Linked DNA regions of Homo sapiens: region 1 is linked to region 2. The links come from fine-mapping of genetic effects on gene expression. Tissue or cell type: whole blood. Region 2 holds a variant in brackets; the other region holds the start of a gene. All regions are shown on one strand. Distances are between the middles of the regions.

Region 1 (8,129 bases), 33 kb before region 2:
AGGCAGTCTTGGACAGATGAAGGCCTAAGACTTATGCTCTTTTTGCATGTCAGCTCATTCCTAGTTGCTCTCTTGTAGCTAACACTTCATATTTACCCACACTGTGGCATTTCCCAAGGTTTGGAGCAAGTAGAAAACTTGGCTGCTATTTCTTCCTGAAGTTTCTCTCAGAAATAGGCTAGATCTGTGTGAAGAGCCATATACTATCTTCCTCCGTTCTTCCCACCCTTCTTTTCTTCTTCTCTTCCTCCCTCCCTTCCTTCTCTCCTTCTTTTCTTTCTCCCATCTCTCTTTTTTTCCATAAGCATTTATTAAGCACCTGTCAAGTATAAGCCATGGTTACATACTTGCCATGGTTACATACCACAGCAGAAACCATGGGTAGCCCAGAGACCAATCTTCACATTCTTCAGAGCACTCTCCTGGGGAGACATCCCCAGACATAGGCTGAGCTCCAGTGCAGAGCGGCCAAGGCAGCAGCCAATTCACTGAGCAGATCCCACGCTGAGTTTCTTAAAGGCTTTCAGGGTTCTTGTAGTGTTTTTCAGTTTTTATTTAAATTCAGAAAGATTCTACACACATGATTTTTTAAATTCAAGAACTTCTATTTCTAGGATATTTTCAACATATCTCTTCTTTGAAAGCTGACAGTATTCAAATGATGTCAGCAAAAGAAAAAAAGCAATCAAGGCTTTTCCTGTTCTGTTCAACTATACATTTCTGAAATGGTAGTAAATTAGAATATCTTAAATCTGTATATGACTCTTTAGCTTGGGGTAGAATATAATTGAGGATTTGACTTCTACTGATTTTTTTGTGGGATTTTATTTTATTCTTATTCTTAAGAATGGTCCAGGTTGGGTGCGGTGGCTCATGCCTGTAATCCCAGCACTTTGGGAGGCCGAAGTGGGTGGATCACCTGAGGTCAGGAGTTCGAGACCAGCCTGGCCAACATGGTGAAACGCTGTCTCTACTAAAAATACAAAAATTAGCTGGGTGTGGTGGTGCATGCCTGTAGTCCCAGCTACTCAGGGGCTGAGGCAAGAGAATCGCTTGAACCTGGGGGGTAGGGGTTGCAGTGAGCTGAGATCATGTCACTACACTCCATCCTGGGTGATAGAGTGAGACTCCATGTTAAAAGAAAAAAACAAAAGAATGGTCCAATTCTCAAGTATCTTGGAGTGTGCCCCAATCTATTGTTTCCTTCTAAGATCTCTCTTCCTGGGGAAGTTAGAGGATCATCAGACATTTCTGTCCTTTCTAGTCCATAGGCACAGTGGGGCTGTTGGATTATGACCTGCCCTTTCCTGATCCCTTGAGTCCATGGGTCTTACACACTTGGCAACCTGCCCAGGAATGCCCTATACGTCTGAGTCTGGGTTGACCTTGGACAGTCTTCTAGATCTCCTAAATTGTTATTTGCAGTTTGAATCAGACCAGTTCAAAGGCCACTTGAGGATGGTGGGCTAGCTATAGAATAGCTGAAAGTCCTCAGCCACACTCTGGGAGGCCCTCCTCCCTGGGGTTTCCTTTGACGGAAGGGATGAAAATAGGCTAGGAAAATTACTCCTAGGAAATGAGCTTTGTAAGTACCTGAGATTTTTTTTCCGCCTCATTTAATCTTCCTAATAATCCTTAGAAGGAGTGATGTTCTATTGATAAGCAATCGGGTTTAGAAGGGCATAAGTAACTTGCCTCTGATGGGAGTATGTAGTGCCTGCTTGTGTTGGTGATGCTCCTTGCACCTCACCCCACCCAGGGACCCACTCCCTGCCCTCCCTATCCAATCTCTGTCCTGGACTAGGTTCCAGGCTCCCTTGCCTTCTGGCTACCAGATGGGTTTGGCCAATGGGAGACACAGGAGAGTGGAGGGAGGATGGATGGAGAGAAAGAGAGGTCTTTGCTCTCTCCTTGATGTGAGGCCGTTCTGGCAGCAGCAGCTTCCTCATCAGTTACAGCTCCTGTTTTGTGGCCCCTCTCCAGGACTCTAGCTCCCTTCCTCACTCCTGTAAATTTAGGGGTGGTGTTATCTTCCCACTATCGCTAATACCTGCATTGATTCCCTAAACTCTGTCCACACCCCTGTAAATTGTTCCTTCACTTGAAGGCTTCAGTTAAAGTCTTTGCACATACCGTCTGTTTCATCCTGGGAAGAACCTTAACTGATACAGTCATACCAAATTATACTGCCTGCCTCCCTTGGAAAATCTCAGGACCTTTCCCATTAGAAGCAGCCACCTTCTGGAAAGTGTCTGCATCCACCTTCTGCACTCAGAAATACTAAAAAAAATCCAGGACATGAGTCATGATTTGGTAGACTGTGAGCTCCTTCAGGGCAGGAACACTGCCCTGAGCATTCTTGGACCCTCTACTTAGCCCAGCCTCAGGCATATAGGAGGTGGTTAATAAATGTTTCCTATGGAGGTTAGCACCCTTGGGCCCTGAGAGTCTCCTGCCCTAGCTTCCTCCCTCCGCTTCTGCACCGCACCACCGGCTGAGCTGCTGGCACCTGTAGGAGCTGGATCATCATGCTGACCGGCCGGTTTTTTCTTATTGTGCTCCACAGAAGGAAGTTCATCCACGTAATTTTTTGCAGTACCCAGAAAGGGTGGGTACAGTGTGTTCCGTGGTGAAAAGCTTGTGAAGGAGGAATGCAGGTTTTAGAGTCTCACTCCACGTTGCTGCTATTCCTATTTGAGAATTGCCCCCCCACCACCGCCACTCCCCTACTCCCACAAAAGCCTTGAAATATTTTATTCATGTGGGATTACAGTCTATGCAACAATGAGACATGAGGAGGTGGCCATGAATAGCCCCCGAGTGTGTTATACACTGAGACCTTTTCCAAAGGGCTGCAGAGGAATTATTTAGTCTAAGCAGCCACGAGTCATGTGATTTCTTCAGAAACATTTACGTCTGGGTAGGCCTGCTTTTTAAATATTCTTGGTGGGAAGCACTTTGAACCATAAAGGCACACTAAAAGACAATTGCTATGGAGACTGCGCCTCCACTGTGCATTTATCTGAGTTCTCCGCCTGGGGCTCTTGAGCGTCCACAGGGTGTCCTGGGCACGCTGCTCTGGGGTGGGGGATCTGGGCGCCACAGTGTTGGGAGGCCACCCGCTTGGGACCCTAGCTCAGGACTGTAAGCAGGAGGCATCCGCCCACGGTAGACGCTCTGCGGGCGTGTGGGAGTGGGACGGCGGGGGGGACATTGAGGGTGTGCGGCGCCCCCTCCCCTGCCTGTGCGGGGACCACGTGAAGGAGAGGCGCGTGGGGGCCCCTGGCGCGCAGCCGCGGTGGGTGACGGCCGGCGTCCCGGGGGCCCCGTGTACGGGGCGTGTGTCGGTGTGAGTCTGGGAGGGTGCAGGGGCCCCGCGCCTCCCCGGTCTCCTCGTGCGTGTGCGTGTGCGTGTGCATGTGTGTCCTCGGCCCAGCGCCCCGCCGAGTGGTGCCCGCGGCCGGGCGAGCGCGCGCGCGCCCGTGCGGGGTGTGTATGTGAGTATGTGACAGTGTGTGTCAGGTGACTCGGGTCACGCAGTCTCTCTCTCTCTCCCTCCTCCGGGAGGAACTGCCGCGCTCCGGCTGACTCCTCCGCCGGCGGGCGGGGCGGGGGAGGGGGCTTCGGGCGCGCTGGGAACCGCGGGACCCGGACCTGGGCGCCGCCCGCCGGGGGACGCGCGGCCCCCGCTTCCGCCGGGCCCCGCTGAGCTCTAGACAAACCTCCGCTTCAGAAATAGGCTGCGGGCGGCCGGCTAGGAGGCTTGGCCCCCACCCCGGGACCCCCGCCGTCCCCGGGCCGGCCGGCCGGTGGGCACGATGAGCCAGGTGCTGGGGAAGCCGCAGCCGCAGGACGAGGACGACGCGGAGGAGGAGGAGGAGGAGGATGAGCTGGTGGGGCTAGCGGACTACGGAGACGGGCCCGACTCCTCCGACGCCGATCCGGACAGCGGCACAGAGGAGGGAGGTGAGCGCCCGGCCCCCGCGTCCTCGGCTCGCGCCCCTTTCCTCCCCTTGGCGCCTTCCCGCCCCCAGCCCGGCCGTGCGCGAGCCACCGACTTGGAGGGGGTCCAGGGGAGCGGGTCCAGTTGAGGGTTTGGGGTGGGGAGGGACGCCAAAAGCCCGACCTCGAGCTGCCAAATGAGGGAGCGCGGTGCTGGTGGCGGAGGGGCAACCAGGATCGGTGGAAAAGGGGAAGGAGGGAGTAAGCGTCTGGGCTGGAGGAGCGCGCGCTTCTGCCCCTTTCAGAGCCGGTGCCTCCCGCGCCCCTCACCCCAAGCTCTCCGCAGCGTCTGGCGGTTGGGGAGGGGAGGGGACCGCGGGCGCGCCCTGGGACCTCTCTCCCAGAACGGTGCTGTTGAAGCCAGGGTCAGATGTCGTGGCTAAAAAAAGGCAGCCGGCGGCGGCGTGACTGGCAGGGTCGTCGGCAGCTGCGGGTGTCAGTCTCGCCCCGCGTCGCCGCGGGAGGGGCCCACCCAGGTAGTGGCTGGGGAGACCCGCGGGGCGGCGGGGGGATGCTCGCCAAGCTGTTGTGGGAGTCTCCGAGAGGCCGCAGATTTCCCGGGATCCACGCAAACACCGTTGTCAGGACACCTTATCTGCTCTCGGTATCACCACCTGGACATGGCAGTGCCTGCCCGGGAGTGAGCGCGCGGCGGGGAATTCTTTGCTTCAATAGTGAAGCAAACTCTTTTTCCTGTTCTAGAAGCGGGTTTTAGCAATCGTTCAGCTTGTGGGGGCTTCCTGCATTTTCTTAAGGTGTAAGGAAGTTGAGAGCCTTTTAGTATTCCAGAGAGGTTAAACTTTTTTTAGTTTCCCTCAGAAGCGAGCAAAAGTTCCTTTACTGTAAGGTCACTTGGAAAGGTCAATAGAAAGCGGCTGTTAAACATGATGTTATTCTCAGTGAAACTGTATGCATCCAAGAGAAGGAACTAACTTTAATGTTTCACACTGAAGAAATTGTGTGAGAGATACAAGTACCTTTGTGACTATTGATTTTTAAAGAACTTTTATTGAGAATTCACTGAACTTATTTTAAATTCTCTATGCAAAGCTTTTCTCACTAGGGTAGTTTCATTATTCTACATCTGGCAGGCACGACTTTCAATGAATCAGAAAGGAAATAAAGTTAACTATGCCTTGCGCCTGGTAGATGAGAAAGCAGCCTCTCAAGTCACCCTTTTTCATAGCGTTTTCTCTCTTGGGATGATTTGTGCTAATTCCTCATTTGCTTAAACTGATGTGTGCACCTTTGTGCTTTCTGTCTTCTGCACTCCCGGTAATTGGTCTTACCGTTGAGCACCAGGCCACATTTTTGTAGATAAAGGCTTTCAGCCGTTTTATTGGAGTCTCTAGAGCTACCTTCCGTAATTAAATTGTTCAGTCGCCTCATTATTATTCAAATTCCATTTGTTAGCTCCTCCCAGATTCTTAGAAGACTCCGGAGAGATGCAGAATAGGGATGTATTTGCAAGGTATTTGAAATGGTGGACACAGTAGGGTGTGTGTGGGATTCTCTTTTTTAAAAAAGAAAAAAAGTGGGGGGGCGGAGGGGCCATATCCAGGAGGGAAAGCCCTGTAATTTGATACTGTCCTGAGGCCTGGAGGGTCCAGAAAAAGTACTGGACCCCTCGTTTATTCTGCAGTTCTTTAAGTGGGCACTTTTAAAATTTGATTTGGGGACTTGAAATTGAAGTGAAATTAAAGCCCTGCTTGAGGGATGGGATTCCCGGAACAAAGGGCTTCCCCAGAGCCCAGACTTGGAGGCTCCTTAGCTGTTAACGTAAAGGCAAACTTGCCTGTAACTGATTTTTGGTGACTCGCATAATAAAATCCTTCTGAATGGGCTTTTGGGATCAGCTTGGGATCTTGCTATAAAAGGATTAAATATATTTATATTGTGAGAAGAGCAACATGTTTGCTCGGCAAACGTTGCTTAAGCCTGGTCTCTGTCCACCTGGGCCTGCAGTGGATAGGTGGTCTGCTTCTCAGACTTCCTCCGTTATATTTTGGCCTCTGTTCTTTCCAGATTTCCCTGGCTTTGACTTTTGGGTTTAGGCCTTGATGCAGAATCCCTTGTCAGGACATTTGCTCTCTAGTGTCAGATAGGCTCCTCAGTCAGCAATTCCAGCGAGGACTGCTCCTGATGGCTGTCAGGCCAGCTGATATGGTCTGGGGAGTGGGGATTGGGAGGAGGAGGTTGGGAGTTGTGACTTCCCTTCCTGTGCCCTTCAAAAGGCTGATTCACGTGTTGCATTATAATCTTGTTTTATTTTTGGTAAAATTTACATTTACCTACTCTCAAACTTAAGAAATAGAATGTAGGGAAAAAAAGGAGTTATTCTGAGAAAAGATGTACTTTGAACCACTAGCAAAGCATTTCTCTAATGAACCCCCACTCCCCTTTCCCCTTCCTAATAGCTTGGTTTAGTGCCTGCACTTAGTGGAGACGTGGGACTTTTTCCACTAAGTTCAGAAATCTACCCTGGTGGGTGGGAGGCTGAGGGTGGGATGTGGGACCAACTAGTATTGCCAGTTAAGTTGCAAAGCAATTTATCAGGAGCTGTGCAAGAGAAGTGGACTAAAGGTGGATATGTAATGCAATTTTCATTTCCCTCAGTCTGTAGGACTTATAAAGGAACCTCTGGTCTTATTTTTAAACCGAGTATGCCTTGTAAATTTTACCACATTGTACTGAGTTTGAAAACATAGGGCAACTAAGGTGAGACTTAAATTGCACTTCTCTGGCTTCCACTCCATATTTTATTCATGAATAGCAAAAGTGTTCTCAGGCACATTAGTTCTGTTAGGGCAGATTTGGGCACCTCTCAACCTTCCTTTCATGGTAGTTAATTGCAGGTAAGGTGAGTCTCACCTTCAATCCCCACACTCCAGATAAAACTACCAGAGAGGAGGGAATGGTTAGGCCGTTAAAAACAATTGCACCAAAAATAATGATTATTTTTAGATTCATGGACTTTAAATCTTTTGATAAATTACTGTGCTTTAAAAACTGTAATAACAGGGAAAGCAATTACAAGATCATATTTAATCAGAAAGTAAAATTGTTTTCCCCCCAAAACCCCTCCCATTTTTTAGGAGAAACTTGGCTAACGTAAGCTGCTCACCCACAGTCCAGTGAAGTTCGGTCTTTGCCTTCATAGCAGCCTGTGCGCACCCTTAGGGTCTGAGGAAGTGACTGTGTAGGTGGTTTCTGGAGGCATGAAAGATCCAGGGTCTTCCTTCCTGAAGGATGTAGATGGGGTGAATCCAGCAATTCATATGTATTAATCATTAGTTCATTAATGTTAGCCTTTTGTGGGGAAGGGACTGGGTCTCTCTATATTGCCTAGGCTGGTCTCGGACTTGTGGGCTCAAGCAATCTTCCTGCTTCAGCCTCCCAAGTAGCTAGGATTATAGGCATGCATGACTGTGCATGGCTTTTTCCTAAAATAATTTTAAAAATATTAGGGAATTCACCTTTTCATTGTTCCTTGGAAGTAAGTAGAGATAACAGTTATACTGATACTGAAATCATGGCTCAGAGATACCAGGGGGCTTTTCTACTGCCCTATCATGAGCTAGAAATGAGCGAAGTATTTAGAAGAGGATCAAGTATATGGAAATGTAAGCCCCTTTTCTTGTAATTCTGCCTTATCCAAAAAGAGCTGGCTTGACTACAGCCCTGGACACAGCTTATCTCTTAGATTTCCTTCTGGCCCTGGAAATACAGAAGAGTTGGAACAGATGAAACTACATAATAGGTTAAAATGATGTGCCCAAAGTTAAACTTTAGGTAAATACTTGTTCGAATGCCTGTATTTAGAGAGTATCTTTCTATATCAGATGTTTTATAAACCTGTGTCAGTGATTCAGGGCATCAGAGAGTACTGACTCTCTACTTTTATTAGCGATCTCTTCCATTTTAATACTAGATAGAGGGTAGTCTAATGGAAACGGGAGGCACAAACAGCAAGTTCTGGATAAGAGCCGATGACTTTGGGTTTGAGAGATCATCTTTTGTCTTTCAAAGATAACTGAGTCTGCCCCAAGTTCACCCCCTGTGTTATTCAATCCTCCCCCAGCCCATAGTAAATGCTGGTGACAATCAATTTCACTTTTAGCACAGAC
Region 2 (8,000 bases):
AGGCTCTCACTCTGTTACCTAGGTTGGAGTGCAGTGGCAAGATCATAGCTCATTGTAACCTCAAATTCCTGAGTTCAAGGAATTCTCCTGCCTCAGCCTCCGAGTAGCTGGGACTACAGGTGTGCACCACCAAGTCTGGTTAATTACATATATATATATATATATATATTTCTAGAGATAGGGGTCTCACTGTGTTGTTCAGGCCGGTCTTGAACTCAAGCAGTCCTCTCCAGTAGGTGGGATTACAGGCACAAGCCACTGCTCCTGGCTTTTGTCCTTTATTCTAAACAACTCTGTAGAGTGTGAAGGATGGGAAGGACTCCATTTGCGGTTTTTCCCTCTTCATAGTTTCCTATTTGTATAATTAATATTTGATTTGCCTAGAGACTAGGGATACATTTTTACTGATGTTTGGAGCATAGAAGAATGCCAGAAAACACCCCCAATTATATTGGCTTTCTGTTTTTTCCAGGTTTGGAGGCACAAGTGGCGGGGCAGAGGGGGAAGGCATTTAGATTCTGTCCTACAGGTCTCTTTCCTTTTTTTTTTTTTGCCATAAAAACAAGACCTGTTCACACCCTTCAAATTGGCAATAAGAGATCTGACACCACCAATTGTTGGTGAGGGTCTGAAGCATCAGATGCTGTTTACAGACTTCCAGGTACAGTCAAGGCACTCCTACCTATGACCTGACAAGTCACCCTTCAGAGTAAGCCACATGTACATGAGACTGTACATATATCATTGTAATCACATATACATGGGAATAATGTCCATCAGCAGGCAAATATAAATTATAGATCATCCATAAAAGGAAGTTTTATAGAGCCATTAAAAGGAACTAATGCACTGTAGTTATGTACTACAGATAACATTCAGCATAGGTGAATCTCACTGACATAGTGTTGAATGAAAAAGGCAAACTATAATATACACACAACTTAATATTTCTTTCCATTTTTAAACAATGTAAATGAATTATATGTGATGTTTGGGGATATATATGTCTGTATTAATGTATACATGAGTGAGAATAAATACTAAACTTGGGATAGTGGTTGTCTCTAGAGGATGAGGGGGTAGAGGGATAGCATGGGTTGGGAGGATGAGGAGAAACACAGAGGGCTTTTGTGTAGGTGTTTTATTTCCTAAATAGAGATAAATACACAGGTGTTCATTATATAGGCATGGGAAGAAGAAAAAAGTTAGTATTGTTTGGGGCAATTCCTCTAGACCAGGGGACTTTTTCTGTAAAGGGGCAGATGGCAAACATCTTAAGCTTTGTAGACTGTACTGTCTCTGAGGAGTTTCTCTAGAGGAAACTTACTCAACTCTGCCATTGTAGCACAAAAGCAGCCTTAGACAATATGAAAGCAAATGAGCATGTTCCAATACAACTTACTTTTAAGAAACAGGCACAGGGCCTGCAGACGGTGGTCTGCTGACTTCTGCACTGAACCAGTGGTTCTTAAAATTGCTCCTCAGCTCCTTCCCCACCCGCCCAGTGGCCTGTATCATGCCTCCATCTCTAATTGTTCATCACAGTTCACAAGAGACTGGAAAAGTTAGGAGGAACAGTATTCTGGGGAAGGTCTTATGTGGAGTAGGGTCCGTTTCTCTTCCTGAAACCGCAACTCTGATCTTTTTTTTTTTTTTTCTTTTTGTGACCGAGTCTTACTCTGTCATCCAGGCTGGAGTACAGTGGTGTGATCTCAGCTCACTGCAATCTCTGCCTCCTGGGTTCAAGCAATTCTCCTGCCTCAGCCTCCCGAGTAGCTGGGACTACAGGCGCATGCCACCACGCCTGGCTAATTTTTTGTATTTTTAGTAGAGAAGGGGTTTCACCGTGTTAGCCAGGATGGTCTCAATCTCCTGACCTCATGATCCACCTGCCTGGGCCTCCCAAAGTTCTGGGATTACAGGCTTGAGCCACCACGCCCAGCCAACTCTGATCTTTATGACTGTCATCAACCTCAGTCATAACTGCCTAAATCAGCTGCATTTTTTTAGCCTTTCTTCTTCCTCTCTTTGTTAACAGAACTTAAATTTTCACACTGGAATTATAAGAAGCCAGCTTGTTGAGGGGAACCTTTGCAACGTATTTCGGGGGGTTGCAGCCACATGGTTTCCAGGTGAAGAGTGTGTGTGGGAGGCTCAGGAAGCAAAGCGGCCTTCTCTCACAGGCGTTGCCTTTGGTCCTAGGATGATTACATGGAAGCCCTGGCCAGGCTCCACCTCACGGTGACCAGGGCCTACAAAGTGAATACTGACATCAACTTCGAGGTGTTTATTCATAAAGTGGATGGTCTGTCAGATGACCACAAAATTGAAACCCAAAGAGATATTCACCAGAGGGCAAACGATGACCTTGCAGATGCTGGATTAGAAAAAATTCACCTCAGGTGAGAACAGAAACCCCTTAAGGATCCCAATAAAGGATGGAAGAAAGCAAGTTTGGGGTTCGGAGTCACCATGATTGGCTTGGCATGGGCAGTAATTTACCTTCTTTTTACCCTGTTTCATGCTGTAGATGGATAGGATTAGGGGAAAATGAGCTTTGCATGTGCTAATGCTAATCTTTAGTGAAAGCGATGTTTTTTTGTTTTTTAACAAATGGTCAAAGCTAAGGTTCTCCCCTCACATGAGAAACACATTATAGAAAACCTATGAATATAATTTTAGTAGTTAGTTGATGCTAAAGTTTACAGTTCTTGATAAAGATATTATCTGTAATTATAAGTAAAGGAGTAGTCTGAAAACAATCCAAATAGGAATCCTCACAAAGGAAAACAATGTTTCCATCATTTTTTGTGAGGTAGTACATGCATCATTTTGTAAATTGGGAAATGGAAAAAAAATAGTTGCTTCAATATCAAGAATATAAGTTACTAATTGGACAACCTAAGAGGCTTGTGTAAAGATGATCTGGCATGGATTGTCTTGCAGAATGTCAGGAAGCTGGGATGGACACAGATTGCTGCGGTTGTAAGCTTGCCAGTTGGCAGATGAGAATAGGCACAGCAGATGAGAATAGGCACAGCTCGGGCTTTTTGGGAGGTGGGGAGGAATGGCTTGTTTTTTACCGAGGTCACTGTAAATTCTGAAGGGGGCTGGACTGTATGTGTTAGGACTATACATACAGAAGGCAGATTACCGGTGTTTTGACATAGCCTAAGCAGCCTGTTCCTCATTCAAAGGGAAAACATGATGAAATACCGTTTCCTCTTTCAGCTTTTATCTGACAAGCATATATGATCATTCAATATTTGAAGCTTTTAGCAAAGTTGTTCAGAAACTGATTCCACAACTCCCAACTCTGGAGAATTTGCTGAACATCTTTATCTCAGTAAGTAAATAATATTCCTGTTTGAGTCACTTGTAGAATTTGAAAATAACATTGCAAGAGTGAAAAAGATCTTATTTCCGATTGCTTCTATAGCATTTCAAGGTCATTTAAGTATTACTTTTAAAGATTACTCCTACGTGTTCTTTTAGATCCTTTAAAATTTAACTCCCAGCCCAGCTTGATGGCTCACGCCCCACTTTGGGAGGTTGAGGCGTTACGATGGCTTGAGGCCAGGAGGTTGGGACCAGTTTAGGTAACATAGTGAGATCCTGTCTATACAAAAAAAATGTAAAAACTAGCCAGGTGTGGTAGCACATGCCTGTAGTCCCAGCTACTTGGGAGGCTGTGGTGGAAGGAGTACTTACTTGAGCCCAGGAGTTTGAGGCTAAAGTGAGCCATGATTGTGCCACTGCACTCCAGCCTGGGCATCAGAGCGAGAACTTGTCTCTAAAAATAAAATATAACTACTCAGATGCATTCCTGCACTTCACTGGTATAATTGGAGGGTTTATTCAAGCCTGTAGGCAATCATTCAATATTAATAGAGCCCCACCAGAGGTAGGGAACATAAAACTTGGCTTTATTGATAAGACGCAAACTGTTGAATAGCTTTTTATAAGTTTAACATGCTATGAGTGATGTGCTGAATGAACCCTACACATCACCAGCTCCAGGTAGGCGCTGCTGAGTTGAATTGAGGCAGACCTATTGGTTATACTCACGTTTACTCTGTCACTACACAATTTTGAGTGTGTTTGTTTAGTGTTTCTAAGCTTATTTTAAAATTTACAGTCAGTAAAAGTATTTTTACTTGGCCTTTTCCTAATTGCAGGTATGTATCTCTACGAGTTAGGAAATATTGCTCAATTTGGTTACCTAAAATAAATAATTTGTGGTCATTCGAATTCTTTTTTTTTTTTTGAGACGGAGTTTTGCTCTTGTTGCCCAGGCTGGAGTGCAATGGCGCCATCTCGGCTCACCGCTACCTCCGCCTCCTGGGTTCAAGCAGTTCTCCTTCCTCAGCCTCCCGAGTAGCTGGGATTACAGGCATGCACCACCACGCCTGGCTAATTTTGTATTTTTAGTAGAGACAGGTTTCTCCCGGTTGGTCAGGCTGGTTTCGAACTCCTG[G/A]CCTCAGGTGATCTGCCCGCCTTGGCCTCCCAAAGTGCTGGGATTACAGGCGTGAGCCACCATGCCCGGCCTCTACTTTTTATTTCTTATGCAAGTCCAGTATAGAGAAGTTTATGACAGTGAAGTTTAAATTGTAATAAAATGATACAATTTAAATTTTTAGTAGCGAGTTTTGCTCATTTTGTATTTTACATTAAGAATGGCATTCAATTTTGTGTAGTCATGACATGGTCTGAAGTTGACTGTTGCTTTAAGGCAACTTTTTTTTTTAAATTTCAGAATTCTGGAATTGAAAAGGCATTTCTATTTGATGTGGTCAGTAAAATTTATATTGCAACTGATAGTACTCCGGTGGATATGCAAACCTATGAGCTCTGCTGTGATATGATAGATGTGGTTATTGACATCTCTTGTATTTATGGGTAAGTACAACATTCTTAAAGGCCACAATCAAGCCATCCTTCCTTCATAACCTTTCAGGCATTTTGCATTTACATTTACTTACTTAACTTTAACATTTTTGTCTTAAATGACTGAAATCTATAAATAAATATACCAGTTAGCATGCAATAATAACAGTTATTGAGCAAATGCCACGCATTATGCTAATCTCATTGCATGCTTCCTATTATTTATTTCAATTTTTTAGCAATAGGGTGTCCCTGTGTTGTCCAGGATAGATCACTCCTGGGCTCAAATGATCCTCTCACCTCAGCCTCTCGAGTAGCTGGGATTATAGGCATGAGCCACTGTGCCCAGGTTATCATTTAATTCTCAACTATTCGATGTGGCAGGAATTACATTTGACCCTTGAACAACACAGGGGTTGGGGTACCAACCCTTTGAACAGTCAAAAAGCCACATATATTTCCCCCCTGACAAACTTAACTATTAATACTAATAGTCTACTGTTGACTGGAAGCCTTACCAATAACATGAATGATTGATTAACACACATTTTGTATGTTATGTATTACGCACTGTATTCTTAACAATAAAGTGAGCTACAGAGAAGAAATTATAAGAAAGAATATATTTACTATTTATTAAATGGAAGTGGGTCATCATAAAGGTCTTTACCCTCATTGTCTTCACATTGAGTAGGCTGAGGAGGAGGAAGAGAAGGGGTTGATTTTGCTGTCTTAGGAGTGGCAGAAGCGGAAGAAAATCCATGTATAAGTGGACCTAGGCAGTTCAAATCTGTGTTGTTTAAGGTCAACTGTAGTGTATTCACTTTACAGATGAAAAAACTGAGGTTCAGAGTGGTTACATTTCTTACTCTTGCTCACACTATCAGTAAGGATTGGAACTGGAGTTTCAACTCAGATCTGATTCCTGATCCTCTGCTGAAAAAAATCTGTTAACATACCGTTCTTAGAAAACAGAGCTTCCTATACACTTAATATAAAATAAACAAGGAGTGGGGGAAACTGATTATGTTACCCGATGTAGAAACAATTCTACATAATTATAAATGTGCTGAACAGGTGGTGTACAGACTGACTAGGTGTGAACTAGTTGTTCATCTTATTAAGATGTTAAGGTGTTGCTATCTGTATTGTATCTGACATCCTCATCTAATCGATGAGGTAAAGCTTTTGCTCATCTTCCTCTTTACTCACTGCCTGTGACCTGCCTTACACAGCTTGACGCTCTGCCTTTCAGCTTTTGTGAGAGTCTAGTCTCCATTTTTCTCTTCCATTGCTTAAAAATCCTTTGCCCACTCAGCTCGGATTCTCTCTGTTAACTGTTAGACACACACACACACACACACACACACACACACACACACCACACACACATGGAAAGTGATACTTACAAGATTGTATTGAGGATGAAATATCATTAGGCTCATAACGTGCCTTTACCTGGTAGACTCTGGATAAATGTAGCTGCCATAATTTATTATTACTGTTATAATTAAACGCTGACATCTGGCTTTAGAAATAAACCTTATTGCCCAAGATTACTGCCCTGAAGCATTCTATTATTTTTAAACCGTTTAAATGGATGACCTTGAAATAGTCATGGAAGATGAACGCACCCTGATTACAGTGCAGATTGCCATGGTAATCAAGTACAATGAACAACACAATTAATCTGGCACATGCTTAACAATGTGCATGATCATTATTGTGCCATATGGTCATTAGCTGTAAGTGGTAAGTTGTTCATGTAAATGATGTTAATCAGAGTTACTTTTACCCAGCTAAAACAAACATGGGGAGGGAGGGGTTAGGAGGAGGTGGCCTGGCTTTGCCGTCAGATTGGTTTTTCTGTGGTGGAGTACAGTGTTCTGAGAACCCACAGGATTCAGTAAGAACCAGTCTGGGTCACAGATGGTTTGTGGGCTCTGGGGTTTCCTCAGATTGTTTGCTGGAGCAGCAACAAGCCAGTCCTGTTAACCAGCAGGAGGCAGGGTTGTGTGCAGAGCCTGGGGCCCTCTTAGGCAATGAGGAAGCAGGTGCCCTTGTAACTGGAGGCCTTGCTGCCCCTCCCCACCTGCCCAGTGGAGACCAGCAGGCCCTAGAATCAGGTGACCTGGTGCCTCAGGAATCTCTCAGCTGAGGCTGTGCCCCAGCTGGCAGCTCTGTGCTCACTCATGCACACACATGCACACGCACATATATGCACACACACATGCACACACTTTAAAATATGTTCTATCTTCATGTGTTTTCATTGCTTATAGATGAAAAACTTGAGTAGTAAAACAGTTTTTGCAGTTGCAAACCTCATCAATTTCTACTTGTAATTTTTGGTGGAGTCTGTTTTTCTAATTTGTTTAATGTTTACCTTTTTCTGATTGTGAAAGTAATACATGCTTATTGCAGAAAATACATAAAAGTCTAAAGAATAAAATTAAAGTAGCCCATAATCTCACCACCTAGAGACAGTCAGTGTTTACATTTTATATAGTTTGTTCTTATTTCCATGTGTAATTTTTAGGATAATGAGATCACATTTGTATGTGAAATTTTTCATCCTGCTTTTTTCATTTAACATTACCACCTGATAATTTTCCTGTATTATTAAATGCTGTTAATAAACAGTGTTTAATATCTATATAGTATTATATTTACTTGGAAATTTTAAATGCTATTTTCTTCATTGGGTAAAACATGTTAAATGTTTCAGTTTCTTGTTCTCAGAACATTACTTATAAGCAAGAGAGATTGAGCCTTAAAATATAGTAGTTAAAACAGTGCAATGGAAGTTAATGAATTCTGTTAAAGCATCTTTAACATTTGATGTCCAGCACTTAAAAGGTTTTTCTTTAATGTTTTGGTAGGTTATAGTGAGTTGAATCCTTTAAAAAAAACAAAAAATACGAACTTCCACAATTTACTTTTTTTTTTTTTGAGATGGAGTTTCGCTCTTGTTGCCCAGGCTGGAGTGCAATGGCATGATCTCGGCTCACTGCAACCCCCGCCTCCCGGGTTCAAGTGATTCTCCTCCCTCAGCCTCCCGAGTAGCTGGGATTACAGGCATGCACTACCACGCCTAGCTAATTTTGTATTTT

Evidence for each region. PIP is the estimated chance that this variant, and not a neighbour inherited with it, causes the effect.
Region 1: it holds the start of RRAGD, and the variant in region 2 is fine-mapped to the expression of RRAGD in whole blood (INTERVAL, PIP 0.97).

What each region holds. Positions count from the first base shown.
Region 1 is chr6:89,407,683-89,415,811 of GRCh38, reverse strand. It overlaps RRAGD (Ras related GTP binding D), which reads left to right and starts at 3,539. Exons shown (of 7, transcript NM_021244.5): 1 at 3,539-3,966. The coding sequence starts at 3,819. RefSeq lists silencers at 3,123-4,312, 4,343-4,452, 4,483-4,582.
Region 2 is chr6:89,374,570-89,382,569 of GRCh38, reverse strand. RRAGD (Ras related GTP binding D) reads left to right here. Exons shown (of 7, transcript NM_021244.5): 3 at 2,203-2,402; 4 at 3,232-3,346; 5 at 4,757-4,899. Among named protein-coding and RNA genes, the nearest start is that of UBE2J1, 26 kb to the right of the region's middle. RefSeq lists enhancers at 6,472-6,972, 6,973-7,473. The variant G/A (reference allele first, on the strand shown) is at 4,478.